7 separate regions of the Homo sapiens genome follow, and regions 2, 3, 4, 5, 6 and 7 are each linked to region 1. Evidence: fine-mapped expression QTL. A gene starts in region 1. Each other region holds a variant in brackets. All regions are shown on one strand. Distances are from middle to middle.

Evidence for each region. PIP is the estimated chance that this variant, and not a neighbour inherited with it, causes the effect. A credible set is the group of variants that fine-mapping cannot tell apart.
Region 2: its variant is the best candidate, but not a certain one, in a credible set for the expression of PLCG2 in atrial appendage (GTEx, PIP 0.61).
Region 3: its variant is the best candidate, but not a certain one, in a credible set for the expression of PLCG2 in whole blood (INTERVAL, PIP 0.74).
Region 4: its variant is the best candidate, but not a certain one, in a credible set for the expression of PLCG2 in whole blood (TOPMed, PIP 0.89).
Region 5: its variant is the best candidate, but not a certain one, in a credible set for the expression of PLCG2 in prefrontal cortex (GTEx, PIP 0.82).
Region 6: its variant is the best candidate, but not a certain one, in a credible set for the expression of PLCG2 in lung (TOPMed, PIP 0.56).
Region 7: its variant is the best candidate, but not a certain one, in a credible set for the expression of PLCG2 in whole blood (INTERVAL, PIP 0.51).

The regions. Positions count from the first base shown.
Region 1 is chr16:81,776,797-81,780,862 of GRCh38, reverse strand. It overlaps PLCG2 (phospholipase C gamma 2), which reads right to left and starts at 1,572. Exons shown (of 33, transcript NM_002661.5): 1 at 1,439-1,572. LOC105369213 (a long non-coding RNA gene) reads right to left here. Exons shown (of 4, transcript NR_189584.1): 4 at 3,510-3,691. RefSeq lists silencers at 1,267-1,346, 1,357-1,456, 1,487-1,756, 1,785-2,079.
Region 2 is chr16:81,877,038-81,881,103 of GRCh38, reverse strand. PLCG2 (phospholipase C gamma 2) reads right to left here. Exons shown (of 33, transcript NM_002661.5): 8 at 151-194. Among named protein-coding and RNA genes, the nearest start is that of PLCG2, 100 kb to the right of the region's middle. The variant C/G (reference allele first, on the strand shown) is at 1,844.
Region 3 is chr16:81,866,037-81,870,102 of GRCh38, reverse strand. It overlaps PLCG2 (phospholipase C gamma 2), which reads right to left. Exons shown (of 33, transcript NM_002661.5): 6 at 805-889. Among named protein-coding and RNA genes, the nearest start is that of PLCG2, 89 kb to the right of the region's middle. The variant G/T (reference allele first, on the strand shown) is at 2,112.
Region 4 is chr16:81,830,588-81,834,653 of GRCh38, reverse strand. The region is part of intron 2 of PLCG2 (phospholipase C gamma 2); the gene reads right to left. LOC124903731 (a long non-coding RNA gene) reads left to right here and starts at 2,760. Exons shown (of 2, transcript XR_007065139.1): 1 at 2,760-2,856. RefSeq lists enhancers at 1,507-1,556, 2,247-2,828, 2,829-3,410. The variant G/A (reference allele first, on the strand shown) is at 1,614.
Region 5 is chr16:81,894,687-81,898,752 of GRCh38, reverse strand. PLCG2 (phospholipase C gamma 2) reads right to left here. Exons shown (of 33, transcript NM_002661.5): 13 at 2,826-2,946. Among named protein-coding and RNA genes, the nearest start is that of SDR42E1, 110 kb to the left of the region's middle. The variant C/A (reference allele first, on the strand shown) is at 1,708.
Region 6 is chr16:81,860,271-81,864,336 of GRCh38, reverse strand. All of the region lies in intron 5 of PLCG2 (phospholipase C gamma 2), which reads right to left. Among named protein-coding and RNA genes, the nearest start is that of PLCG2, 83 kb to the right of the region's middle. The variant T/C (reference allele first, on the strand shown) is at 1,651.
Region 7 is chr16:81,840,601-81,844,666 of GRCh38, reverse strand. The region is part of intron 2 of PLCG2 (phospholipase C gamma 2); the gene reads right to left. Among named protein-coding and RNA genes, the nearest start is that of PLCG2, 63 kb to the right of the region's middle. RefSeq lists an enhancer at 1,876-1,935. The variant C/T (reference allele first, on the strand shown) is at 2,472.

The sequences.
Region 1 (4,066 bases):
TAGAGATGGGGTTTCACCATGTTGGTGAGGCTGGTCTGGAACGCTTGACCTCAAGTGATCAGCCCAGCTCGGCCTCCCAAAGTGCTGGGATTACAGGTGTGAGCCACCGTGCCTGACCAAGAAATGTTTTCAAAAGTTTTCTCACCAGCAGCTTTTCATTGACTCTACCCAATGAGTGCAAAAGGGCTATTCATGGGGTCTGTGCTTTTCCACTTCCAGAGGAACTGCCCATACTCCAGTCGCTGGTGGGGGAAGGCAGCTGCATCATTAGGTGACTTAAACATCAGTGAGGCTCACAATGACGATTGTCCCTGAGCTGGTATACACGTGACTGCACACACACCTTTGCAAGAGAAACTGCTTGAGGCTGGCATAGACTTCAAAATTCTGTAAAACTTCCCCGCAGAACTGTAGTCAAGGACGAGGGCCCATGCCCCAGAGAATGCCCTTGAACCAGAGAGTCAGGAACTGCCCAAGGACTCTCCATGGATGCGCCCCGATTCTCAGCGAACCTCGTGGAACAGCAATAAGCCCCAATTCTCGACACAGCCCTGGAAAATTGGGTGGCTCCAGTATCCAGAGGGGGAAACAGACTCAAAAAGGTTCTTCAACTTGCCCAGGGTCCCACTGATGGAACTGAAATTCAAATTAAGTTCCGACGGGCAAGGCCACCTGTTTCCCTCGCGCCATGTCACCCCTTTACCACCCCGCCCCCCATAGTTTCTCACCCTAGTTCAAGATTAGGGTACCAAGAGAGCCCCGCCCCACCGTCCTGCTGGAATCCAGGAGCTCCCCGTCCAAACGGGGCACGTCTTTAACCTGAACTCTTGCGCTGTGCGGGTAATGCCCTCTTTGGGATTCCAAAACACAACAAAACACAACACGCACAGACACACGCATAATTACGCAGACAGCTGCGGAGCGGGCATCGCGAGTGTCCTGCAAGCTCTCCAAAAGTCTCCGGGAAGGACTGCGCCTCCCGCGGTATCGCTCCCACCCGCCACCCGCAACCACCGAAGTGAGACAGGGAAGTGTGGCTCCGAGCGTCCGCGAGCTCTGGGCACAAGGGCCGTCAAGAGAGACGGCGCCACCCCACGCAGAGCCGCTCGAAAAGAGGAGTTTTGAACGCCAGCCCCCACACGACCCCTGACCTTCCTCCCGGTCCCCATTCAAAGCTGGGGCCGCCCCACCGCACGGACCGGAGAGGTGGCGCCGGCCCGGGGTGAGGAAGTGGCCAGCGGCTGGGCCAGGATCCCTGCCGTCACCAAACGGACCCCGGGCACGGCGGGCCGGGGTCCCCGAGGGTGCGCCCCGTCCCTGCCCGCTCCGGCTGAGCCAGGACGCAGACCCCCTCGGACGCAGCGCCCTGGGAGCCGGTCCCCGCGGGGCGCAGGTCCCTGGGCGCCCTGCCTGCCTCGCTCCCGGCCGGGCAGCTCACCTGGCCGTGCCGCCCGGGCACAGCTGCCCGCCTGCCCCGGGTTTGGGCTCCGGGGTCCCGCGCGCGCAGCCCGCGTCCCGACTCGGGTCACTCAGCGCCGCTCACGCCCTCCGCCGCCGGCGCTCGCTACTTCTGCTTCGGCCGCGGCGCCGCGCCACGTGATCCTCGGGGGCCGCCCCCCGCACCGCCCAGCCTCGCCCCGCCTCGCCCCGCCCCAGGCGCGCCCAGCCGGGTCCGCCTCTCGGAGCGCACCCCGAGTGCAGCGTCCCCGCGCCCTCCCCGCCATGGAGCGGCCCAGGCCTGGAGCCCCGCCTCTGCGTGCCAAAGAAGAAACTGAGGCAACCCGAGGGGAGGCTACCTGCCCGAGGCCACTTGGCCAGGTGCAAAGGGAATTCCCCAATATCATGGCATTCCTGGAGAGCCGGCCGCAGTCCAGGTGTTTGCCGTATACTTAACACACTCCCGGCCGGGCGCCCGGGCTCACGCCTGTCATCCCAGCTCTTTGGGAAGCCTAGACGGGAGGATCGTCTGAGCTCGAGAGTTCGAGACAGCAATGAGCTAGGATGGGTGTGGCCGAGAGACACTCCGTCTCAAAAATAAATAAATAAAAATTAAAAATAAATATACTCTTCACAATTACCCGCCAGGAATTGCCAATTCATGGCCCTAATTTGAAGCCCTCGTTGAGGCTGCGCTGGAGTCAGACCAACCCTTACTGCTACCTTAGGCAGACCACTTAAAAACCGACAGCCTCAGTTTCCCCATCTGTAAAACGTGATCAACATAGTGCCAGCCCCAAAGGGAGTCAGGAGCAAAGAACCCCAGACAATTGATGTCCCGTTTTCCTGATCTCATGGGAAGAAGCTAATATGTTCTTTAAGAAATTTATTTTTCCGTTCGTGTGTTGCATGAAGCTATCTGATTCAAACCCTTCCTATGCTCTTTGATGGAGGTATCTTTGTTGTGACTAGAGGCAGTTTCAGGGGCACCTAGACAGCTGTCAGGCACTTGAATTTCACTTCCAAGTTGCTTGAGTTATAGCTTCTGTTTTCTAAGAGGCAGGGTCTCACTCTGTCACCCAGGCTGGAGTGCAGTGGTGCCATCATAGCTCACCACATCCTCGAACTCCGGGACTCAAGCGATCCTCCTGCTTCTGCCTCCTGAAGAGCTGGGACTATAGAGGCACACCACACTTGGCTAATTTTCTCTTTTTTCGACATGAGGTCTCACTATGTGTCCCAGGCTGTTCTTGAACTCCTGACCTCAAGCAATCCTCCTGCCTCTACCTCCCAAAGCACTGGGATCACAGGCATGTGCCACTGGTCTGTTATAGCGTTTTTTTTGTGTGTGTGTGTTTTTGGTTTTTTTTGTTTTTTTTTTTGTTTTTTTTTTGTTTTTTTTTTTTTTTGAGACAAAGTCTTGCTCTCTTGCCCAGGCTGGAGTGCAGTGGCACGATCTCGGCTCACTGCAACCTCCACCTCCCAGGTTTAAGCGATTCTCCTGCCTCAGCCTCCTGAGTAGCTGGGATTATAGGTGTATGCCATCATGCTTGGCTAATTTTTTGTATTTTTACTAGAGACGCGGTTTCACTATGTTGGCCAGATTGGTCTCAAACTCCTGACCTCAAGTGATCCACCCACCTTGGCCTCCCAAAGTGCTGGGATTACAGGCATGAGCCACTGCACCCGGCCTGTTATAGCGTTTTTTAATTGAGGAATATCACTCTCACTGTCAATGTTGTATCCCAAGCCATAGGACTCGTTTGTGACTTCACAAGATCTGTGGATTCATTTCTTTCAGCACTCCCAACTGGCGTGTATAGCTGTGCTCATCACCACAGATCACTTAACACATCAATTTTTTAAAGAGATCTTGGAAGGACTCATTATGACATCAACCACTTGAAGTCATTGGGCCAATTCCCCAGGAAAAATGACTACATCTAGGGGCAATTCCTTTGCCTCACTTTTTTTTTTTTTTTTTTTTTAGAACTTCAGCTTGTATTTATTTCAACCAATCTTTTTCACACTTTTGTTTTAGTATGTGTTATATAAAGTACATAATATATTAGTTCAGTCATATATATGTATAATTTATTATTACAAAGTCTACATGGATAGGGGAGTGGGTTAAGTCTCTTGATGGCAAAATGAGATTGCATATAATCAGAATGTGTGGAGACCACTCTAGGGAGCCGTGGCTCCTAAAAGCCTATCTTGACAGATGCCAATTCTGGCTGGATTTTTCTCTCATCTGTGGGAAGCAAGCAAAAAAATAAGAACATGAAGAACAGGTTTCTCTGTTTAATCTATGCCTGTGAGCCTATAGTATTTTTGAGTTAAAATGTCCACTGTGTGTGAGATAATGGTCATCGTAAATGGCAGTTTGCTTTTTTTTCTTTCATGTTTTTAATTCATTTTCTTCTTTGGCTCATTTTTTGCTAACCAACCCCTAGCCCAACCCCACCCCCCAGGTGAACGACTGAAGGAATCAGTGGATTGAAAGAGAGTACTGGAGGCCCTTCATCTCTTTCTCAAACTCTAACTTGGTTGTTCAAAATAAAAATAATCTGCCAGGTGCAGTGGCTCATACCTGTAATCCCAGCACTTTGGGAGGCCAAGGCAGGCG
Region 2 (4,066 bases), 100 kb before region 1:
GCATGGGATGGCCAATTCCCCAGCAGGGGCCCCCTGCCCCTTTGGAGGTCAGCGCCTGCACACACAGGCATCCCCTCCTGGAGGCCGGCTGGGCACCAGGCACCGAGGTCCGGCACAGCCGCCCCGAACGACACACAAGAGCTGCCTCACCCCAGGATGAACACGGACGAATCCTTTTTGAATTCATCGAGAATCTGAAATGGAAAGCACACACAAAAAAAAGAACCTTAGACAAGTCACTTAATGCAAAAACGGAAAGATTTTTGTTGTTAAAAAAGCATCATTTTGTCAGATGCAACAAGATCATTAAAAATATCATTTTAGTTGATGTTAGTTGTAAATATTCAAATATAACAGAAACTTAAGAAGCAAAAGGTAGAAGCCCTCCTCATTCCCTCCACAGTCGTATTCCCAAGAAGCAGTCACCCTTAAGCATTTCATAGGTTTCCTTCTAGAATTTGTTTTAGGGATATTCATTTAATGGTATCATATCATATTATAACATTTACGTACATCTCACAATTTTTTGCTGTGTTTCAAGCTTTACATATTATTCTGCAACCTCAAATAACCCTGTTTCCTTTCTTTGAAAAACCATTGTATTCCACAATAAGCATGTCACTTGATTTTTGTAACATCTAGTATTATTTTTAAGTGTCCCTGTGTGCCTATTTCTCTATCTTTGCCCACTTGTGCCAGTTTTTCTACAGAGTAGAGTCCTAGAAGGAAAAGCGCGTAGACACAGCACATTGTAGGCACATTGGCTTTGATAAATTCTGCCAAGGTGCTCTCAAAACAGTTGAGATAGGCACCTCCACTGGGGTACACATACCTTTTTCTATATCCTCACTGCCAGGTTTCTTTAGAGATGGGGTCTCACTGTTACCCAGGCTGGAGTGCAGTGGCACGACCATAGTTCACCACAGCCTCACTCTCCTGAGCTCACATGATCTTCCTGTATTAGCTTCCTGCGTAACTAGGACTACAGGCATGCGCCACCATGCCCGGCTAATATTTTTTCTTTTTGTAGAGATGCAGGTCTTACTATGTTGCCCAGGATGGTCTTGAACTCCTGGCCTCAAGAGATGCTCCCTCCTGAGCCCCCTCAGTAGCTGGGATTACAGGCAACATTTCAAATCTTTAGTATTTCAAAGATGCATTTCTAATCTTCGAAGGCAAGAAGACGAAAGAAATATCGGACTGCTTCAGCTCCTCTCTTCACAGCCCACTGCCGTGCCAACTGTTGCATGATGAAGAGGCTCTTCCACCAAGGGGGGCGCCATGGAGCACCCCTCCCTCCAGCTTCTACTTGCACCAGCCCATTTTCTGTGCATTGTACACAGGCACCCTGCACACCCACATCTTGTCCATTTCTGCCCAGGTAGCCTTGCTTCAACAGTCTTCAATGACACTGCGATTGGATAAGCACTTAGGGAAATGTATCCACTATCACATGATCAATGCTAACGACATAAAACATCTCCTACCCCAGATGACCCAGGGTCCTCTTGCTGAACTCCTTGCAGCCCAGGACGTCATGGGGACTATCAGGGTTCTAGAAAGGGAATCGCAGGCCTCTGAGAAGCATCAGAGAGTCCACATCAGTTTGTGTGGGTGTGTGTTTCTTCTGGAGACATAATCAGCATCTCAAAGGAGTAGGTCCCACCAAAAGGTTAAGAGCCGCAAACTTAGCCTTTTTAGGCAAACTGAGAAGTACTTCCTTTCGTTGATGTGTAATTTACAGCATAGGTATTTCTTTTTAAAAAGGGGTGGTGTTGCAGATTTTAGACAGGGCATGTTGCTATTTGGACTCATTTACTGCTTAGGTCACCAAGTCAGCCTG[C/G]TGCTGAAGGCATCAGGGGCTAGAACACTTCCAAGCCCAAAGCCCCACACCCAGCTTATTTACATCTGGAGGGAGCCCAGTGTGTGGCCCCCCTCACTGACCACCACATGCAATTCTTCAGCCCTCTCCTTCCTTTACATTCCTTTCAACAAAGCACAGAAAAAGCCCGCACCGCATTCCCCCACTCAGGGAGCTCGGACAATGGCAGAGGTACCACCATGGTACAGATGCTCCCAGAACCAGGAAAGACCTGGCTTCCCCTCCTCTGCCAGGTCTTGCAACTCCCTGCCCGGACACTCTGCTTGTTGAAGCAACCGGAAGCTCATTGGCACAGGCACCTGGGAACGTGTTTGCAGGAATTGGCCCCTGGGACGCAGAGCAGGACAGAGAATGAAAAAGAACAAATGAAAGCCAAGAGCCACAAACGCTGCAAGAGAACCAACAGTGAGAGGCAAGATAAGGAAGACAGTCGGGCATCCCAAAGGCAAGTTACAACATCAAGGAGAGAGTGACCAGCTTTGACACGTGCTGCTGAGTGGACAAGATAAAGACCACGGGGCAGACTTCTGGATTCGCAACACATGGAGGTGATGGCTGACGTGCCAAGATGAAGTGCTCTAGGAGGCAGGGATGGAAACAAGACGGGAATAGACTCAAGAGACAGTAGGAAGAAGGGAAGCGTAGACAGCTCTTGGAGTAGGTTACTTTAAAGGGGGCAGATAAATGGGGCTGTAGTTGACAGTATGGGGCACAGGTGATCAAGGAAGACGTTCTAAAGATAGAAAAAGTTATAGCTAGTATTATGTATAGGATGGTGTCCCCGGGAATATATGTCCAAGTCCTAATACCCAGTACCCATGGGCATGACCTTCTTTGGAATTAGGGTCTTTGCAAGGTGCAATCAAGTTAAGATGAGGCCTTGCTGGGTTAGGGTGGACCCGAATCCAGTGCCTGGCTTCTTAAAAGAGGGAGATTTGGGCCGGGCACGGTGGCTCACACCTGTAATCCCAGCACTTTGTGAGGCCGAGGCAGGCGGATCACTAGGTCAGGAGATGGAGACCATCCTGGCTAACACAGTGAAACCCCATCTCTACTAAAAAAATACAAAAAATTAGCCAGGCGTGGTGGTGGGCGCCTGTAGTCCCCAGCTACTCGGGAGGCTGAGGCAGAAGAATGGCGTGAACCCGGGAGGCAGAGCTTGCAGTGAGCCGAGATGGCGCCACTACACTCCAGCCTGGGTGACAGAGCGAGACTCCCTCTCAAAAAAAAAAAAAAAAAAAAAAAAAATTAAAAAAAAAAGAGGGAGATTTGGAGACAGAGAAGCACACAGAGAAAAGGGGTCCATGTGATGATGGAGGCAGAGACTGGCACAATGACATCTACAAGCCAAGGAGCGATGCAATGACATCTACAAGCCAAGGAGCGATGCAATGACATCTACAAGCCAAGGAGCGATGCAATGACATCTACAAGCCAAGGAGCGATGCAATGACATCTACACGCCAAGAAGCGATGACGCCTACATGCCGAGGAGTGATGGTGTCTGCACACCAAAGAGCAATGCCATCTACACACCGAGGAACACTTGTAGGACTGCTGGCAGCCACCAGCAGCCAGGCGGTGTCCACACTCCGAGGAATGCTTGAAGCATTGCTGGCAGCCACTAGAAGCCATGAAAGATGTCTGGAACACATCCTTCCCTGGAGCCTTCCGAGGGGTGTGGCCCTGCCAACACCTGGATTTTGGACTTTTAACCTCCAGTACAGTGAGGGAATAAACTTCTGTGTTTTGTTGTTTTGTTTGTTTGAGACGGAGTCTCGCTGTGTCGCCCAGGCTGGAGTGCAGTGGCGCAATCTCGGCTCACTGTAAGTTCCGCCTCCAGGTTCACGCCATTCTCCTGCCTCAGCCTCCCAAGTAGCTGGGACTACAGGCACCCGCCACTATGCCCAGCTAATTTTTTTTGTATTTTTAGTAGAGACAGGGTTTCACCGTGTCAGCCAGGATGGTCTCGATCTCCTGACCTCGCGATCCGCCCGCCTTGGCCTCCCAAAGTGCTGGGATTACAGGCGTGAGCCACCGTGCCCGACACTTCTGTTATTTTTAAGCCACGAGTTGCAGTACTTGCCACAGCGGCCCCAGGAAATGAACATGGGCTCCATGAGCTGGGGCAAGACGGTGACAGTCTCAGTCACTCCTCCTGCTGATCCCATCAGGTAGTAAAAT
Region 3 (4,066 bases), 89 kb before region 1:
TATTGGGGGCAGGTCAAAGGATGCTTGATAAGCAATAAAATGGGATAATTTTTCCAGGAGCTCATTAATACAAAAATGAAATGAGCTTTTTGCACTGAGGAACCTTGTAATGGAGCTGATATTGAAAATGGGCATTGGAGTCCTCCAACTGGGGCTGTTTGGATGCAGGGTTGCTCATTTCCTAAGAAGAATGAGTATTTCCCTGTAAGCAAAAATCGGTGCCCATTGTCTCCATCCTTGCCTCACCTGCTCTACTATATCCCATCACTCATGGAGTGGCTTTACTGCCCAGACCCACCAATAACTTGATTACACAACAAAATAAATTTAATGATGTATGGAAGGATGGATGGTTGGAGAAACAGAAGAAAAAAGAGCCAACTCTGACAGCTACACTACCAGGACTTGCATACAAAATGCCACGGTCCTGGTACCCTACACAAGGAATCTTTCATAATATTTTCCAAAAGACATACATGCATTCATTTCACTAGGGAAAAAATGGGCTGCAGTATGGTCAGGGAAATAGGGAAAGCTGGACTAATGGAAAACAGGTCTGAGGGTAGATGTTCCAAGTCCAAGAGCTCAGTAAACATGGTCTTTATTGATTACATTCTCTGCTAGGATTGAGACGATGGTCCTCAGATATGTCCATGATCCCTCTGTCTGAACTAAGATGTACTCTGGAGGCAAAGGATTTTCTTGTGCACTATTCCACGGAACTCAAAGGCAAGCCACGGCTTCATGAGAGAGGCTAAGTCACTCCGCATTCATAAAATTCCCAGGCTGAGCCATGAAACTTACCACAAACTTATCTTTAAGGAACTTGGCACTGCTCACTTTAAAGTTGATCAGGGGCAAGATGGTCTTCAACTCTCGGAGACTGATGCTGCAAAAGAGGGAGACCCAGTTCTGTCACCTTGAGGGTTTTCAACAGCACAGGATTTAGCTGCTCCCATCAGTTCCCACCTCAGGCAGCCCTCTATGAGAGAGCCTGGTCAACAGTTATTTATGGACCACTAACTGGGAACAAGACATTGAGTCAAGGTAAGGGTGACACTTCAATGAGCAAGGCTCAAGCAATGTCCATGGACATGGGTCACATAGCAGACTCACAGGGTAGGGTGATGCCCCAATAAGGAGGGCTGGTCTCCACCCTTCAGGTATGTCCAGGGACATAGGTCACATAAGAGATTTATAGCGTACAGTGATGCCCCAATGAGGAGGCACCTACACTGGAGATCCCCAGTATAGGGTGATGTCCCAGTGAGAAGGGCTGGTCTCCACCCTTCAGGAATGGTCATGGAGGAAGGTCTTGCAGGAGATTCAGTGTGGGCAGAAAATGATGTCAAATGACCAGATAATCTCAATACAAAATGCCACAGAAATGCCAAAGGCCCAATATAGGTGTTGACATGATGTGATTTCTGCCCAGGACTCTGAATGTCAAAGTGAAGAAATTCAATGAAGCCTGGGTAAACATCAGGAGTAACTATGACACTCTTCATGTAGCCAAATGCTTTGTCACCTAATTAGCGACACACATGAATGGATGAACAAGACTCCTACTGACTCTACCTGCCACCCAGAGGAACCAAAACCACAGGACGGGCTTGGCAGAATCAGCCAGGAAAGACCCAGCTGAATTTGACTCTAGTCTGACACTGTGAAGAGACAAGAGGGATGCAGAGTAAGTGGGGACCCCCTGCACCCCCAAAAATAAGTAAAAAAATAAAGGTTTCTTTTAATGCCACTGGGGTTCAGAGCAAGGCAAGGTCACTAAGGGCCAGGGAGGGGAAGTGGGAAGGAACAAGGCCTACATGAGCACCTACTGTGTGCCAGGCTGCCCTGGGGTCATCCAGGCATTAAAGTTGCCTAATTGTTCACCAGATTCTACCTTCTGCAAAGTACACATGGTTGACCCCCAGGGCTCAGAACAGCCAAGGGTGGGGTGTCACATGGGTACACAACTCAGGGCTTAGAGCTGGATGGCAGGCAGCAGAGCCTGGATTTGAATCAAATTCCAGTGCTCGGTCACAGGAATCTGCATGAGTGTTTCTTCGAAGCCACATAGTGAGGTTCAGCTGAAGCGGGAAGCGAGGGCCAGGCAC[G/T]GTGGTGGCTCACGCCTGTAATCCCAGCACTTTGGGAGGCTGAGGCGGGCGGATCACGAGGTCAGAGGATCGAGACCATCCTGGCTAACACGGTGAAACCCCGTCTCTACTAAAAATACAAAAAAAATTAGCCAGGCATGGTAGCAGGCGCCTGTAGTCCCAGCTACTCAGGAGGCTGAGGCAGAAGAATGGCGTGAATTCGGGAGGCGGAGCTTGCAGTGAGCCGAGATCACGCCACTGCACTCCAGCCTGGGTGACAGAGCAAGACTCCATCTCCAAAAATAAAAAAGAAAAGGGAGGGAAGCAAGGGAGAACACGTCCCAGGCAAAAGGAGCAGCAGCAGCAGTAACAATAGTAACAAAAGCTGAAACTTCAATAGTGCTTATCAGGTGACAGGTGTTGTTCTAGGTGGTGCCTTATATGCACATTCACCTGTTTGATGTTTGAACAATTTTACAAGGCAGGTACCATGATCATCTCCATCTTCCAGGTGAGGAAACTGAGGCACCGATCAGTTTGGTACCTTATCTGTGCTAGCCTCAAACTCCAACCCAGTGTGCCCATAATGACCACACCTGACTGCCTCCAAGCGAGTAGCTCACACAAGAAGGAGAAGTGAAATTAGTGGGGTGGGTGGGTCAAGAATATGAGATCCAGACCCTTCTGGCTGGAGCCAAGTGTCCAGCAGAGCTGAGACAGAGTGGTCAAGAGAGGAAGCTCGCCCCACCTTGCAGGAGAAAACCACCTAGTTTCCCTGTACCATCCTCCCAGCTTCTGCTGTGGCATGCGGAAGGAAGTAGCGCGTCACTGCCCAGCCGCTGCCCTGGAGACGGTCCAGTGTGACTCTGGCCATCCTGTGTCCCCACCTCCAGCCTTTCCTCTGGTTCTAAGGGCCTCTGTAACAGCACAGACTTCAAATGACAAGATGCTCCCCACCCACTTACTGGTACCACAGGGACAGCACCCACGGCTTTCACAGACAGACCTTGAGGGCAGAAAAAGTCCCTGTTGGGCCAGCTGGGGCTGGCTGGGCACAGCGGCCAGCAGGCTAGGGAAGTTGCCCCAGGGGCTTGCAAGAACCTTTCTGCCTCAGCCCTGGGAGTGGTCCAAGGAACAGCTGGGCCAGGGCAGGATGAAGGTGGAGGAGCAGTGGGAACAGGCGCTACCAGAGCGGCAGCGAGAGGGGTCGTGGGGAGAGGAGCCAGATCATGCTGGTGCCCCAGTGGAGCCCATCCTGGGAGCAAGGGAGAGGCCAGTGTCCTCTCATGCTGGTGCCCAGTGGAGCCCATCCTGGGAGCAAGGGAGAGGCCAGCGTCCTCTCACGCTGGTGCCCCAGTGGAGCTCATCCTGGGAGCAAGGGAGAGGCCAGCATCCTCTCATGCTAGTGCCCCAGTGGAGCTCATCTTGGGAGCAAGGGAGAGGCCACGTCCTCTCATGCTGGTGCCCCAGTGGAGCTCATCCTGGGAGCAAGGGAGAGGCCAGCGTCCTCTCATGCTGGTGCCCCAGTGGAGACCATCCTGGGAGAAAGGGAGAGGCTAGCGTCCTCTCATGCTGGTGCCCCAGTGGAGCTCATCCTGGGAGCAAGGGAGAGGCCAGCGTCCTCTCATGCTGGTGCCCCAGTGGAGCTCAACCTGGGAGCAAGGGAGAGGCCAGCGTCCTCTCATGCTGGTGCCCCAGTGGAGCCCATCCTGGGAGAAAGGGAGAGGCTAGCATCCTCTCATGCTGGTGCCCCAGTGGAGCTCATCCTGGGAGCAAGGGAGAGGCCAGCGTCCTCTCATGCTGGTGCCCCAGTGGAGCTCATCCTGGGAGCAAGGGAGAGGCCAGCGTCCTCTCATGCTGGTGCCCCAGTTGGAGCTCACCCTGGGAGCAAGGGAGAGACCAGCATCCTCTCATGCTGGTGCCCAGTGGAGCCCATCCTGGGAGCAAGGGAGAGGCCAGCGTCCTCTCATGCTGGT
Region 4 (4,066 bases), 54 kb before region 1:
AGGAACATCCCTCAAGGAGCCCCAGCTCTGAAACTCCCAACAGCAGCAGCAGCAGCAGCAGCTCTGCAGATCCAGGGTCTATCAACCACGTGACGAGTGCTCTCTGTCCATCATCTCAGCGGTCTCTCCCAAAGCCCTAAGTAACTACCATTATCATCAACTCCATTTTGCAGAAGGGGAAACTGAGGCTCAGGCAGGTTGGGCAAGCTGGGGTCTGAGTCCTGCCAGTCTAGCTGCAGGCCCAGAGTTCTCCAACACCACCCGCGCCGGCTCCTGGGCTAAGACTCTCACACAGACCGCCCTCACAATTCTGCCAGCAGCCAGCAGAACACCGAGCCCTCCGAGGTCAAGTTCAGGGCAGAAACACCTACTGGGACAGAGAACAAACCAGGTCCCCCTTACTGAACATTTAATAGGTGTCAGAGTTGACCTCAACATCTCTTTAATCCTCCCACCAATCTTGGGAAGAAAGCCCCATTTTCCAGAGACAGCCCAGGAAGATGAAGTCACCCATTCAAGGCCACCTGGCTGGGTTTTGATGCCAAAGACACCAGGGTAGTCTGTGCGGGTGGCCCACAGTGGAAGGCCCGGAGACAAGGTAAGTCCAGTTACCTCCTGTCCCCATTCCCACGTTCCAGCAGCTGCTCCCTGAATGACCTCTCAGAAAACCTTGGGGTGAACCTGCTAGCTTCTGGCTAAAGATGAATGCTTCCTTTGAAGTCAGGTAAGCCTCTGCAGACAGAGAGATGCCAGAAGCATTCAGCACTCCCATCGCCAAAGGCAATCGTTAGGCAAGACACACAGGAGGCCGGGCGCCGTGGCTCATGCTTGTAACCCCACCACTTTGGGAGGCCAAGGCAGGAGGACAGCTCGAGCCCAGGAATTCCGAGACCAGCCTAGGCAACACCCTCACCTTGGCTGTAAGTTCCCACCTCTACAAAAAAATATATATAATAATTAGCCAGGAGTAGTGGTGCATGCCTGTGGTCCCAGCTACTCAGGAGGATGAGGTAGGAGCATTTCTTGATCCTAGGAGGTGGAAGGTACAGTGAGCTGTGATCACACCACCGCACTCCAGCCTGGGTGACAGAGTGAAATCCTGACTCAAAAAAAAAAAAGATTTTTTTAAATTTTGAAATTGAAAAAAAAAAAAACAGGCAGGAGTATCCTTTTACCTTGTCAGTGATTAACAGGAGAGGCCAGGGGCTTCCAGGTGCCTCCTCCTCACCCACAGGGAACGGCCACCCCGGGCCAGAATACTGGCTCAGGACCCGTGTACCGACCGGAGCCACAGTCCAGGAAAAAGGACCCTGGGGGTGTGGACAGATTGCGAAAGAAGGCCCCAGTCCTCCAGAAGCTTCTCCAGAGCCCAGTGACTCTAACACACAACCAGGCTGTGGCCCCCACAGAAAGGTAAAGCACTCCTTCTTTAAAGGGTGATTTTCATTCTGGGGTTGCTGAACCCCAAACGTGGTATCCTCATGCTGTGGGCTCTTCTCACAGACCAGACTCAGGGAAGGAATGGGTTCTGCGAGGTGGGTGCCAGCAGGAAAGCACCCTCACCTTGGCTGTAAGTCCCCACAAGACACCCCCTCTCTGAGAGGTTGCCTTCC[G/A]CTTCTGGACTTCCCTTTCCAGGTCCTCATCACATCTCACAAGCGTGACTTGTTTCCCTCAGTTACTGTCATGGCCCCAGCAGCAAGCTGGGCACACAGGAGGCCTTCAAGTATCGGCTGACCACTGGCTGCCTGGGCCTCACACGCTGACACCTTCCTATCTGGGCACTTAGCCTGCTCTCTTATGGCTAATGGGTCACCCACAGGGTCTCCCACTAGCTGCAAGGATGGCAGGCCTCTGCCTCATTCTCTAGCTTTGCAAGAATGGGATCTGATCCTCACGCAGTCAACTGGATATCATACCACTCACAGAAGTGTAATTAAAATGGTAGATTCTGCCTGGGCGCAATGGCTCATGCCTGTAATCCCAGCACTAAGGGAGGCTGAGGCAGGAGAATGGCTTCAGCTCTGCAGTTTAAGACCAGCCTGGGCAACACGGCAAAATCCCATCTCCACAAAAAATACATACACACACACACACAAATTAGCTGGGCATGGTAGTGCACATCAGTAGTCCCAGCTACCTGGGAGGCTGAGGTGGGAAGATAGCTTGAACCCAGGAGACAGAGGTTGCAGTGAGCCGTGATCATGCCACTGCGCTCCCACCTGGGTGATAGAGTGAGATCGTGTCTCAAAAAAAGGCAGGGTGGGGACAGATTCTACTCAAAAAGGAAAAGAAGAGCATGCATTAGGGAATATTCACTTAACCTCTTTTGCTTAATCTGAGGATTATTCCTAAAATGTGGCTGCCATGTGGAGCGGAGCCCAGGAGAGAGGCTCTGATGGTGACTGCCACCTCTGACCACTACCACTGTTAACAATGATGGTGAATATCCCCCCAAGTATTCACCATGAGTCAGGCACTGAGCAAAGGCTTTATGTGCATTTCCTCATTTGAGTGCCACAGAATCGCCACAATATCACTATTCCCCCCCTCCATTTATCAAAGGAGAAGACTGAGGCCGGAGGACGACAAAGCCCACTGCTGGTAACTGTGTCCGAGTGCCCAGGCTCAATGGTGGGGCATGACTGGCTCCAGCAAGACAGCAGCCTGCAGAAGTCAGTCCCTTCCGCTAGGGCAAGAGGAGTCACCCCTGCCCCCGCTTTGCCTGTGCAAATGAGTCTTCATTTGTGGTTAGCAAGCCAGCCCTTCATTTCCCCACCAGGCTCAGAGTTTTGCAAACCAAAGTTGGGGGATGGCTAGCGTGGCCTCCCGGCAGTTCCTGTTGCAGACAGCTAGAAGGTAAGAGCCTTCCTTCCCTTTCAGACAAGGCAGGATTGGGGCAAGAGCGGGGAGCCTCCTGGGGTCCCCATTACCCTCTAGCCCAGGCACTTCTGGCCTAAGTTCCCCCTAACACAAGGATCTGAGTCCCACTCGGGGTACAAATGCCTGCTGGACTCCACAGCTTGGGGCTGAAATCTACCTGCCTCCCTCTTTCCCAGCACTGGTCAGAGACCCAGCCAGGGGTCCCAACTGGAGTATGGGGTTGGATGAGGTTCAAATACTAACCCCACCATGTCCCCAGGTGTAAAACTGAGACAAATAGAGAGGGCCAGTTTCGTGGCATTGACATGAGGATTTAAGGAGACCAAGTTCATGGCCAAGTGCTTAGTGCAGTGCCTGGCACACAGCCTGTGTTTAAATGTTTGCTGCTATTATCCACAGATTCTCACGATGATGGTCACGTCCGTTCATTCAGCCATTAGGTCAACAAAGAGTAGGTAAAAGCCAGCGTGCCAGGCACTGTTCTGGGAGCTGGGGATACAGCTATGAATAAAACAGACCAAATTCCTGGCCTCGAAGAATTACATTCTAATAGGAGGAGACAGAGACAAGTCAATATTTATTACACTTGGCAATCACAAGTGCTACAAAAACTAAACCAAAGAAGAGCAAAGCATGGTGTGTGACCAGGAGGGAGGGGCTCTCATAGAAGGTGTTATCAGGGAGGCCTCCCCAGAGGTGGTGACATCTGGGCTGATGTCTGAGATAGAATATTTCAGGCAGAGCAAATAGTAAATGCAAAGGCCCCAAGATGGAAATGTGTATGGTTGGTTGTAGGAAGAGCAAGGTTGTCACCAGCTGGGACACACTGCGTATGCTCTCTGAAACCCTCATGACCCGCAGTGCCTGTCCATCTCCCCTCTCCTGCCTGGACATTCTAGTCACGCTGTCTCTGCACTTGCATATACCCTCAGTCATCCAGAAGCCCGATGCCCCCCTCACCCTTCCCATCCCCCTCCACTATCACACACTGTGTCTGTCAGTCTCCTCCAGGGTCCTCTGGAGTCAGCTGCAGCCCTTGGCAGATGATTTTGCCATTTCATTCATATATATACATATATAAAATATATGTGTGTATATATATATATACACACACACACACACACACCCCACACATTTTTTTGTTGTTGTTTTTTAAGACACAGTCTTACCAGGCATGGGGGCTTAT
Region 5 (4,066 bases), 120 kb before region 1:
TTAGACATACTGATCATTAGACATACTCAAATTTCCCCAGTTATCCAAGAAATATACTGTATAGATGGAGTTTTTCCCACCAAGAATCCATCTGAGGCTTGTGCATGGCATTTACTATGAAACAAAATTATTCTAAAGGCAGCTATGTCACTTCCATAAATAGGAAATCACGTCACTCAATAGAAATGAAGGCAAATGTGAAAATAAAGTGACGATGATAAAAATAAAATCCTTAACCATGTTCCAGCTCAAGTAAATCATAGCCTCATCACTCCTGGGAAGCGTGGACCCAGCTCACTCCCCGATCCTGATCCACACACCCTTACTAGAACATAACAGCTAAAAAGCTTTTACAACAAAGGCTACCTAGTAAGTTGGTATCAAAATGTAACTGACAGCAAAATCTGAACCATTCGAATGAACGCTGCTTGCAATCATTTTCTTAAATCCCTCTTAATACCAATAAGGATGGCTTTTGCTGCCAAAACATTAATGCATTAATGTTTGATTACAGAGTTCTAGCCCTATAGGTGTTAGATGATTCCAGCCCTATTTTAACCAGAAAAAACTTCCTCTAGTCATGAATGAGATAATGTTCGATGAATGACTGTCAGCTCACAACCATAAGCACCTATGTCCTGCAAATGAAAGCAAACTCTCAAAGCAGAGTGTAAGCTGCCACTGCACAGTGTCTGTTAATACCAGCTCCTTCCATCTGCCTGATGGAGGTTGGCACTTAGAAGGGCTAGGACCCCACAGGGGAGAATGCTGCGATGGAGAAATCATATGCCTTCATTGAAAGGTTTTCACCAAGTGCGAAAAGACGTCCATAATTTCATTGTCTCACAGCAACACCTCCACCCAGCTCAAGGGACATCTGCAGTAAATGCAATAAAAATAACCAATCGGGTTGGGCACGGTGGCTCATGCCCATAATCCCCACACTTTGGGAGGTTGAGGCGGGAGGATCACCTGAGGTCATGAGTTCAAGACCAACCTGGCCAACATAGTGAAACCCTATCTCTACCAAAATACACAAATTAGCCGGGCATGATGGTGGATGCCTATAATCCCAGCTACTCGGGAGGCTGAGACAGGGGAATTGCTCGAACTCAGGAGGTGGAGGTTGCAGTGAGCCGAGATCCTGCCATTGCACTCTAGCCTGGGCGACAGAGGGAGACTCCATCTCAAAAAAAAAAAAAAAGAAAAGAAAAGAAAAGAAAAAAAGAGAAAAAATAATCGATCTTATTGACTCAACAGTTACTCTATGCCAGGTGCAGGGTTAAGCACTTGCTGTAATGGCATCTCATTTAATCATCACAACCGCCCTGTGAGGTGCACACAGTTATCACCTCTATTTTTTAACATGGAAATTGAAGCATAGGATGGTAAGTGCTTTGCCCAAACTAGTACTCAACAGCTGGATTCAAACTCAGCGAGAAGGACTCAGAACCCATACTCGTAACTGCTATTCTACCCCAGAAAGTATAAAAAGACAACTATCATTCCAATGAGCCTATAGAAGGCCTCTTGCCAGCTCTCAGAAATAACAAGGAACCCAAACCAGGAGTCGGCATATGATGGCCTCTGCCCCAAATCTGGCCTGCCATCTATTTTTGTAATGTGTAATTCAAGTTTTAACTGGAACACAGCCAGACTCATGTGTTTACCTCTTGCCCATGGCTGCTTTGCACTTCAGCAACAGGG[C/A]TGAATAGTTGCAACAGAGACCACAGGGCCCATAAAGCCTGAAACATTTGTATCTGGCTCTTTATAGAACAATTTCGTTGACCTCCAGCCCAGACCAAGATCTTCTGGTGGGACAGAAAAGGATTACACCTGAGGTCAGAAACCCTTGAAATGAACCTAAATGTTCTCACCCATTTAACCCCTCCTTGTCTCAATTTACTCATCTGTTAAATGGGGATGACCATACTCACTTTGTGGCAAAGAATCAATATGATCACCTGTACAAAGAACCTAGCACAGAGCCTGGCCCCAGGTGGGTATTCAAAAAACACACCACCACCATTACTGGCTGCTTGGATTCCGCCTGTAGAAACAGGTTTGGTGGGGGTGAGAACTGGGCACAAAAGAGGGAATTAGGACAGAAGGGGAATTTTACTTTCCTTGCCTCACTTTTTTTTTGGTTTTTGTTTTTTTGGGTTTTTTTCCTTTGAGACAGGGTCTCGCTCTGTTGCCCAGGCTGCAGTGCAGTGGCGCAATGTGACCTCACTGTAACCTCTGCCTGCCAGGTTCAAGCAATCCTCCCACCTCAGCTTCCCAAGTAACTGGGACTACAGGCACATGCCACTACACCCAGATGATTTGTGTGTGTGTGTGTGTGTGTGTGTGTGTGTGTGTGTGTGTGTGTGTGTGTGTGTGTGTGTTTTGGTAGAGAAGGGGTTTCACCATGTTGCCCAGGCTCTTCTCGAACTCCTGACCTCAGTGATCACACCTCAGCCTCCCAAAGTGCCGGGATTACAGGCGTGAGCCACTGCGCCCAGCCTTTCCCTCTCTTTCGGGGGTTCTGAAAGTGGGGGCCAGACAGAATGAGGAGGTGGGGTGGGCACTGAGCAGCCACAGGGTTCCCCAGCCAGAGCCTCCTCGGGGCTCTAGAGCCCGGGAGCAACTTGCACTCTCGGCCTGCAGGGGGTGCCAACACTCGGGTGAGAACTTGATGGCAGTGGCTTTGGCCAAGATGGGGCCCAGGCCTTCCCGCATTTGGAGGGAGGTGTCTGTGTGTGTTTGCCTGTCTGTCCATCTGTCTATCCAACCCTAGCTGCCTTCCCCTTTAAGTCACACCACCCAGAAATCAGCCAACTGACCTCGAGGTAACAAAGGCGTGGTCTTTGATGGCCTGCACGACGTCGTCAAACTTGATCTTGGTAGTCCGCGTCCAGCCATGGTAGATGACCGGCTTCCCATCGGGCCCGTCCCAGCAGTCCACTACAGGGAGAAACGCGGCAGCCTCAATACCACGTGTGTTCACTGACAGCCCCGAGGTCAGCCCCCGGCCCACACACCAGTTCAGTTACTAGACAAGGACACCCACACTCCCTCCATTCGGCTGCCAACACGAGGACATGGCTTTCCCTGTATCCGCAGGGTTCCCTGTGCGCTTACATAATGCAAGTGCAGCTGTCCAAGACAAGCTAGTTTCAATGCTGCTTTTTTTTTCATTTTTTTTTTTTTTAAGACAGAGTCTCGCTCTGTTGCCCAGGCTGGAGTGCAGTGGCACAATCTCGGCCCATTGCAATCTCCGCCTCCCGGGTTGAAGCAATTCCCCTGCCTCAGCCTCCTGAGTAACTGGGACTACAGGCGCGTACCATCACGCTCGGCTAATTTTTTTGTATTTTAGTAGAGACAGGGTTGCACCATGTTGGCCAGGGTGGTCTCAATCTCCTGACCTCATGATCCATCCACCTCAGCTTCCCAAAGTGCTGAGATTACAGGCGTGAGCCACCACGCCCAACCTCAATGCTTCTTTTTAAAGAAGATTTTACCACGTGTTTTATTTTCTGACTTTACCTGTTGAAAACCTTGACTGCCTTTTCTGCCCGTGGAAATGATACAGAGCAATGAGAAATTTATTTGTAAAGGTTCACAGTAATATTTTCAAACAGAAATGGGTCATGTGGAAGATGAACATCCCCAATCTTTTGGACCCCTGGAGGGCACAGGAGCTGACTGCTTCAAGCTTTACTTTTAAACATTTGTTTTTTCCTGAGGGAGGAGAAAAATCATAAACGGGAAGAAAGTCTATAGAGTAACTGCTACAAAACGTTGCTTCCATGATGAGTCGTTTTGGTAACACTGGAGCCTAAGTCAGTAGTTGATGCCTTTTTTATTTTATTTATTTATTTTTTATTTTTATTTTTTTGAGACAAAGTCTCCCTCTGTTGCCCAGGCTGGCGTGCAGCGGCGCGATCTCAGCTTACTGCAACCTCTGCCTCCCAGGCTCAAGTGATTCCTGTGCCTCGGCCTCCCAAGCAGCTGGGATTACAGATGTGCACCACCACGCCTGGCTAATTTCTGTATTTTTAGTAGAGAAAGGGTTTCGCCATGT
Region 6 (4,066 bases), 83 kb before region 1:
TTTTGTTGAAATGGCCACCTGTGGTGAGGGGTGCCCTGCTGGACAGCGCAGCCCCAGAGTTCTGCTTCTCTAAGTAGCTCCCAGACCAGCAGCATCTACATCACCTGGGGATTGGTTGAAATGCAAATTCTTGAGCCCTGCCCACCACCTACTCAATCAGCCACTGTGAGATGGAGCCCAGCAGCCTCCACTTTCACAAATCCTCCAGGGGATTCCGGTGCATGCTCAGATTTGAAAATTGCCCTCTAGACAGCCCTAATTTTCAACCCCAGCTTCACAGAAGAATCTTATTTAAAAAATTTGCAACGCCAGAGGCCATGCCCAGAACAGTAAAACCCGAATCACTACTGCCGTGGCTCTGCCAAAGCTTCCCCAGGTGACTCTAACATTCTGGAGTCTCAAATAGGAAGCCTATTTGCATTCACGCTGAATGAGATAAATGGACTCACCCACCTGCCTTCCACCTGCAACCCCCTCACCCTTTGCCACCTCCTGGTAGAGTAGTTCCTCTGTCCCTGCCAGGGCTAAAGGACAAAGGGAAGTGCACATTCTACTTATGCAAATCCAATGTTATACGCCAAGGGGGCAAGGGCAGAGGAGGGAAAGGAAGTAAGTGTTGGTGAGGATATGAAGAAAACAGAAACCTGTGCACTGCCTTGGGAAGGTGTAGCTGCTACAGAAAACAGTATAGCAATCCGGCAAAATAAATCCAGCAATTCAGCTTCTGGATATATACACAGCAATCCAGCAACTGATCCAGCAATTCAGCTTCTGGATATATACACAGAGGAATTTAAAGCAGAGACTCAAACAGATTTGTACACCCATGTTCGCAGCAGCACTATTCACAATTGCCAAAACGTGGAAGCAACTCAAGTGTCCATCGATGGAGAAGTAGATAAGCAAAATGTGGTCTATCTGTACAATGGAATATTATTCAGCCTTAAAAAGGAAGAAGATTCTAACACATGCTACAACACAGATGAAACTTGGAGACATTACACTAAGTGAAATAAGCCAGATACAAAAGGACAAATATTCTGCTAGTCCACTTATATGAGGTACCTGGAGCAATCCAATCCAGAGAGACAGACAGTAGAGTGGTGATTTCCAGGGGCTAAAGAGAGAATCAATGGGGAGTTACTGCTTAATGGCTGCAGAGCCTCAGTTTGAGATGATAAAAAGTTCTGGAGATGGATGGTGGTGACGGGAGCATGACAACATGATATACTTCATCCCACAGAAGTACATATCTAAGAACGGTTAAAATGATCAATGTTGTTCTATGTTTCATTGTTGTTACCACAATAAAACAAATTTTAACATTTGTTTTTAATTTTTTTTAATCATAAGGTGATTGGTCAGGGTGGGGAAGGGAAGATTTCTGCATTTCCCCCAGCTCTCAACAGCACAATTGTTTTTATTTTCGTTGTTTTTGGTTTTGTTTTGTTTTGTTTTTGTTTTTGAGATGGGATCTCACTCTGTTGCCCAGGCTGGAGCTCAGTGGCACAATCATGGTTCACTGCAGCCTTGACCTCCCTGGGCTCAGATGATCCTCCCACCTCAGCCTCTCAAGTAGCAGGACTACAAATGTGCACCACTACACCCAGCTAACTTTTTTGTACTTTCTGTATAGACAGGGTTTCCCCA[T/C]GTTGCCCAAGCTGGTCTCCAACTCCTGAGCTCAAGCGATCCACCCGCCTTGGCCTCCCAAACTGTTAGGATTACAGGTGTCAGCCACCATGCTCGGCCAGTAGCACATTTAAAAAAAGAAAAAAGAAAAAAGGAAAAGCAACACCAGTGGGGAAAGTAAGTCTGCAAACCCTGGTGCCACCCCTGACAACCTGGGCTGCTTTAGTCAAGTCACTTAACCTCTCTGGGCCTCAGTGTCCTCACATAGAAAACGTGTCTGAGAGCACCTAGCTCAACCGTCAGCCAAGAGCATATCCTAAGGATGTAAAGTGCTTATTACAGCCACGGCTGCAAAGAAGGCTGTAAACAAATGCCCGCTGCTACCATTTGCCTCTAGAAAAGTCAAAAAATGAAACAGCGTGCTTGGGCCAAGCAAAACACCTAAGACTTGTCCATTGCCCGGGCTGGGCCAGCCCTGAGCCTGCCCCCTCTCGCCTTCAGTCTTTCCTCTGCCTCTGTGGCTCCTTTGTTTTCCTTCAGGAAACACGATTCGTCTCGTGGGTGACAGGAAAGGGAGGGAAATTGGCAGGACAGAAGTCAGTTGCTCTTTCATTGGCATCTTGGTCAAAGTTTCTTTTGCAAAGCTCCCTCCAGGCTTCCCAGAACCACAGGAAAGGTGGGATTTTCCACATGTTGACAGAGAGCAGGGCTCTGCCCACTGGGAGGGAGGTAGAGGAGAGGAAGCCGGTGAGCACACAGGGATGAACTCAGTCCAGAAACAGAAAAGTTTCTCTCTGCAGAGGGTCCTGGACCAGCCGATGGGAAGATGGATCTCTATGCAGGACTTGCCAGAATGCCTCCTGAGCAAGAGGGTGGTATCCATTTCTTGACCTCACAAACGAAGAGCCGACTTCAGAGCCAGATTGGCCATACCATACCAGCACCGCGTGGAGAGAGGCACTGAGGGTGGCTCCCTCTCTCAGCCCTGTGCCAATCTCAGCTATGAATCATCATAAGCCACAGAGAAAGAAAAGTCAGAAGAGGCATCACCTCCGAGGCTGAAAGAGACCAGTGTGTACCAAATCTTCCAACACAAGCACCTCATTTGATCCACCTCAGTAACACGAGAGGGTGGCCCAGCGTGGCGGAGCAGGCAGGGCATTTTGGATGAGAAGAAGAGGACGGAGAGAAAGGCAGGTGGACAGAAAAACATGGAGTGAGCTAATGGCTGACCTAACATTACTAGACTTTTAACCACTTCCTAGTTAATAGTTCCAAATCCTCCCATCGGGCATGTGAAGAAACCAGGGAAGCTCACCCAAACCCTGAAGCTAACAAGTAACAGAGGACACTGACCAGACACGAAGTCACCTTCAAGATGGAAAGATTTTCAGGAACAAAATAAGAGAGCTGACAGAGTTTAGTTATTGGATATTAACTAGGATAATGACACATCTAGATGGGATAATGACATATCCACATAGGATAATGACATAAATAAATCAAGAATGAATGAAAGGAATATTTTACCAAAAAAATAAGGTGCCTCACGTGAGGCTAACATGAGACAAGGACTGAAGAGCTCAATGCAATCCCTGGCATGCCAAATACACGGTTGTTCAATAAATGGTAGGGTTTGGTTTTGGTTTTGGTTTTGGTTTTTTTGGTTTTTTCTTGTCGTGGTGGGTTTTTTTGTTGTTTTTTGTTTGGTTGGTTTTGTTTTGCTTTTTTGAGACGGAGTCTTGCTCTGTCACCCAGGCCACAGTAGAGTGGCGCGATCTCGGCTCACTGCAACCTCCACCTCCCGGGTTCAAGCAATTCTCCTGCCTCAGCCTCCTGAGGCTGAGTAGCTGGGACTACAGGAGCGTGCTACCATGCCTGGCTAATTTTTTGTATTTTAGTAGAGACAGGGTTTTACCGTGTTGCCCAGGCTGGTCTCGAACTCCTGAGCTCAGGCAATCTGCCTGCCTCTGCCTCCCAAAGTGCTGGGAATATAGGTGTACACCACTGCGCCTGGCCAAATGGTAGTTTTTATCATTACATTATCAAGAGCTGAATCATACCTCAAAAACATAATGAATTAAAAATGCTCAACCTCACCCATAAAGAAAGCAAGTTTAAGCAAAAACACTTGGTTGCCTCGGTTGCAGATGAACAAAGATCAAAGTCTAATGGCACAATAAATCATCAGGAAAGGGTGCCCTCTTGCCCCACTGGTAGAAATATTATACAAATTGCTACCTCTCGCTATCAAACTATTAGACCAGCAAACGCTGTGCTGCTGGTATTCGTTTCTGAGAATTTACCCCACTCACAGCTCCCTCAAATGAGTTTACAGAAAGATAGACCCAAAGGTTTCCACAGCAGCATTAATCACAGTAATGATAAAGGATTGGGAGCAGCGCTCTGTGCATCAACACGGAAATGATTTCCGAAA
Region 7 (4,066 bases), 64 kb before region 1:
GAGGTTCACGAGCACCTAGGTGCCAATGAAAACAGTGAAGGTGTGGGCCAGGCACAGTGGCTCACGCCGGTAATCCCAGCGATTTGGGAGGCCTAGGCAAGCAGATCACTTGAAGTTGGGAGTTTGAGACCAGCCTGGCCACCATGGCAAAACCCTGTCTCTACCAAAAATACAAAAATTAGCCGGGCATGGGGGCATGCACCTGTAATCGCAGTTACTAGGAAGTCTGAGGCAGGAGAATCACTTGAACCCATTGTGGGGGTGCAGAGGTTGCAGTGAGCCAAGATCACACCACTGCACTCCGGCCTGGGCAACAAGAGTGAAACTCCATCCGAAAGAAGAAAGAAAAGAAAGGAAAAGAAAAATGAAAAGGTGCCCGGGCGCGGTGGCTCACGCCTGTAATCCCAGCACTTTGGGAGGCCGAGGCGGGTGGATCACGAGGTCAGGAGATAGAGACCATCCTGGCTAACACGTGAAACCTCGTCTCTACTAAAAATACCAAAAAAAAAAAAAAAAAAAAAAATCAGCCGGGTGTGGTGGCGGGCACCTGTAGTCCCAGCTACTCGGGAGGCTGAGGCAGGAGAATGGCATAAACCCGGGAGGCAGAGCTTGTAGTGAGCCGACGTCACACCACTGCACTCCAGCCTGGGCCACAGAGCAAGACGCCTTCTCAAAAAAAAAAAGAAAGAAAGAAAAAGAAAACAAAAGAAAAACGAAAAGGAAAAAGGAAAAGGAAACAGAAACAGAAAAGGAAAGGAAAGGCGTGTCTGTCTGCAATGGAAGAGAAGCAGTTAGACACACAACCAACGGCACATCAAACCCGGCATCCTGCCCATTCTATTGAGTTCTTCTTTCATCCCAGCATTTGCTTCTGACAAGCAAACTACCAACCAGGGTCCAATTTAAATGAATCTTTAGTATTTTAAGCAGATCATTTCATTGTTTTTTCCATTACAGTACAAGGTAGTTGGAGGATAGAAGAATATCCTAATTCAGAAACATTACTGTATAGTATCCTATGTACTTTTTGCAAACATGCTTAGCAATGGGTTCATCAAAGCACCCAAAAATTGGGCATTTGTTGCTGTAGATGCTTTGTATTCACGCGAAAAATATTGGTAGGCTGATTTTAGGTACTTAAGGTTGTTAAGTGATACTAAGGAAATTGGCTGGGGTGTTTCAATCAGTTGGTAATGCATCAGCGCTTGTCTCTGTGTAATATGATGTAATATATTGCAATCCAAAAATGTTCCTCTCCAGTGTGTTTTCAGGAATGTACTGGATTCAGCTAAGAAGGAATGTGCCTATTTGTAAGTGTGCACGTATGAGTGTAAAGGTGTGAGAAAGGGTACCAAAAGATTTCCACCAACTTGCTGACAACAGGCACTACTAGTGAGAAGGAGATGGGCAAATGATGGTCAAGGAGGGCTTTGTCTGCATGGGTTCAAATTTTTGCCAAGGGCTCATAGTGACTGAAACAACACTTTATTCTCAAAGTAGGCTGTGGTCAGCAGACCTCAGGCCATGCACTCTTGCATGGTGGGGCTCAGTGGCCGAGTTTCCTGCTTGAAGAAAGTGAGATAACCCAGCCACAGAAATGAGGCTTCATCTTTGCACAACCCCACCCCCTTCCCAGCATCACCTCGGGTCTTCCCAGGTCCACCCCACCCCCACCACCCATCCCTCCACTCCCACCCCCTGCAAACAAACCCCCACACACTGAGTCTCCTAGAGTCAGCCTCAAAGGCCGGCACCCCACTCCAGCCACCCTCCCTCAGCCCTCCCTGCCTACCCATCACCTTCTGGCACAGCCTTGCGGACTTTTGGCCCCTCCGTACGTCTCATAGCTTCCTCTCACTCCCCGCTTTACACCACCGACCCCTTTGCTGGCCGGGCCATGACCCTGTTCTTCAAGCTCCCATTTCCTTCCTCCTCCCGCTACTGATTCTCTGTCTCTCTCAGGCTCCCTGCACCCACGGAACGTCCTCCCACCCCTGACACCAGGAACATGGCTTTTTCCCCAATTCCCATACATGACCTCAAGGGGCACCACACCTGACAATGAGCTTAACAAAAATTTCTCTCTGGAAGCTCAAGACATATTCAAGCGAGCAAACAGACAGACAGAAGGCTTGGGCACCTTCCCACACATACCCCAACCTCTTTTCCGACTTTCAGTTATTCAGTCAACCAGGCAGTCACAGAACCCCACGCTGAGCGCTAGGGATGCCACACTGCAGAGACAGACACAGTCCTGCCCTCAGACGGCTCCGAGTCTGGGAGGGAGGACAGGCCCTGTCCAGGCCGGCATATGATATGTGAATATCCACATCTCCATCCACATCAGGAGTGCAACAGAGTCCACACTGGGGCTCCTCCCCAGCAAGGGGAAGAAAGGCTTCTCTGAGCACATGCATCCTGGCTGAGTTCTGCAGACTGGAGCTCACCTGGGAAGAAGAGGAGAAAGCCTC[C/T]CTTTGTAGGGAGTTCTGGAGTACAAAGACCTTGGTTCAAATCCTGGCTTATGCTCCCCAGGGGTGCACAGGAACCAGGCACGTTGCATCCCTTCTCTTTGCTGTTTCCTCCGCTGTACAAGCAGTGATGCTTATCATTGAGTTGTCATGCAAACCAAATGAAATAACATGAAATAAAAATCACGTGGCCCCAGGAGGGCTCCACCAAGGTGAGTTTAGCTACTAGGCTGAATGGTTTTCTGTACCACCTTGCAACACCAGCTTCCCAGCTGCTGGTGGTTTCACTTTAAGTAAAAAGCCCCAGCGTTGCTTACTGATCTCAGCCAAGGACCCTGCTTTAAGAAAAACCAAAGGTGTTAGGTTACTTCACACATGTAGCAGCGTCTGACATGGCAGCTGGGGGAATAGGTGAGATACACAGCAGAAGAACATGTAATGACAAAAGGGGCTTCCGAGGCACACACGGTAGAGCAGAAAGAGCCCAGCTCTAGAAGGATCTAGCAGGCATGAGTTAAATCCAGCTCTTTCTCTCCTGGCTGTATGAAGAAGCCTCTATTCTGGCTTACTGTCTATTTTCTCATCTATGAAATGGAAAAAGAACATACACCCTATAGAGATATATCTGAAAAAAAACTTTGCAAAAAGTAAAGTTTACAGCCGGGCGCAGTGGTTCATGCCTGTAATCCCAGCACCTTGGGAGGCCGAAGTGGGCAGATCACTTGAGGTCAGGAGTTTGAAACCAGCCTGGCCAACATAGTGAAATGCTGTCTCTACTAAAAATACAAAAATTAGCTGGGCATGGTAGTAAGCGCCTGGGTGCCTGTAATCCCAGCTACTCAGGAGGCTGAGAAGAACGGCTTGAGCCCAGGAGACGGAGGTTGAAGTGAGCCAAGATCATGCCACTGCACTCCAGCCTAGGCGACTCAGTGAGACTCTATCTCAATAAATAAATAAATAAATAAATAAATAAATAAATAAATAAATAAATAAAGTTTACTTTTTGGCCTGCAGATAGGGGGTGGGCCTGCCCTTATCTTCTTTGTTAAAAAGATAATAAACAACAGAGTTGTTGCCACTGCGCTGACAGCAGAGGCGAAAATCAGTGTCCTGCTTCCATGTGAAGAGATTCTTCCCAGATCATTATGCTCAAATAATTAGGTCTGTGATTCTAATGCTTCATATTCATGCAGAACTATTCAATAGATAAGAGTTTTAAGTGATACTGGGGAAACTGGTGCTTCTCTCCCCTCTGGGACTCCCCATCCCCAAGGGAGGAAGGGACCACTCCCTGGAAAAAGGAACTGAGGATACTCAGCCTCTTCATCTTGTTCTAGCTGGATCCACCCCCAAGGGACCACGTGCCCTGCCCTGTTCCTTGCCACTCGGAAGGGAGCTGCCTCCAAGACAGGGGTCCCCAATCCCCAGGCCATGAACTGGCACCTGTCTGTGGCCCGTTAGGAATCGAGCCGCACAGCAGGAGGTGAGCAGGGGTCTAGCGAACATTACTGCCTGAGCTCCACCTCCTGTCAGATCATCAGCGGCGTTAGATTCTCATGGCAGCACAAACCTTATTGAGAACTGCACATGTGAGGGAC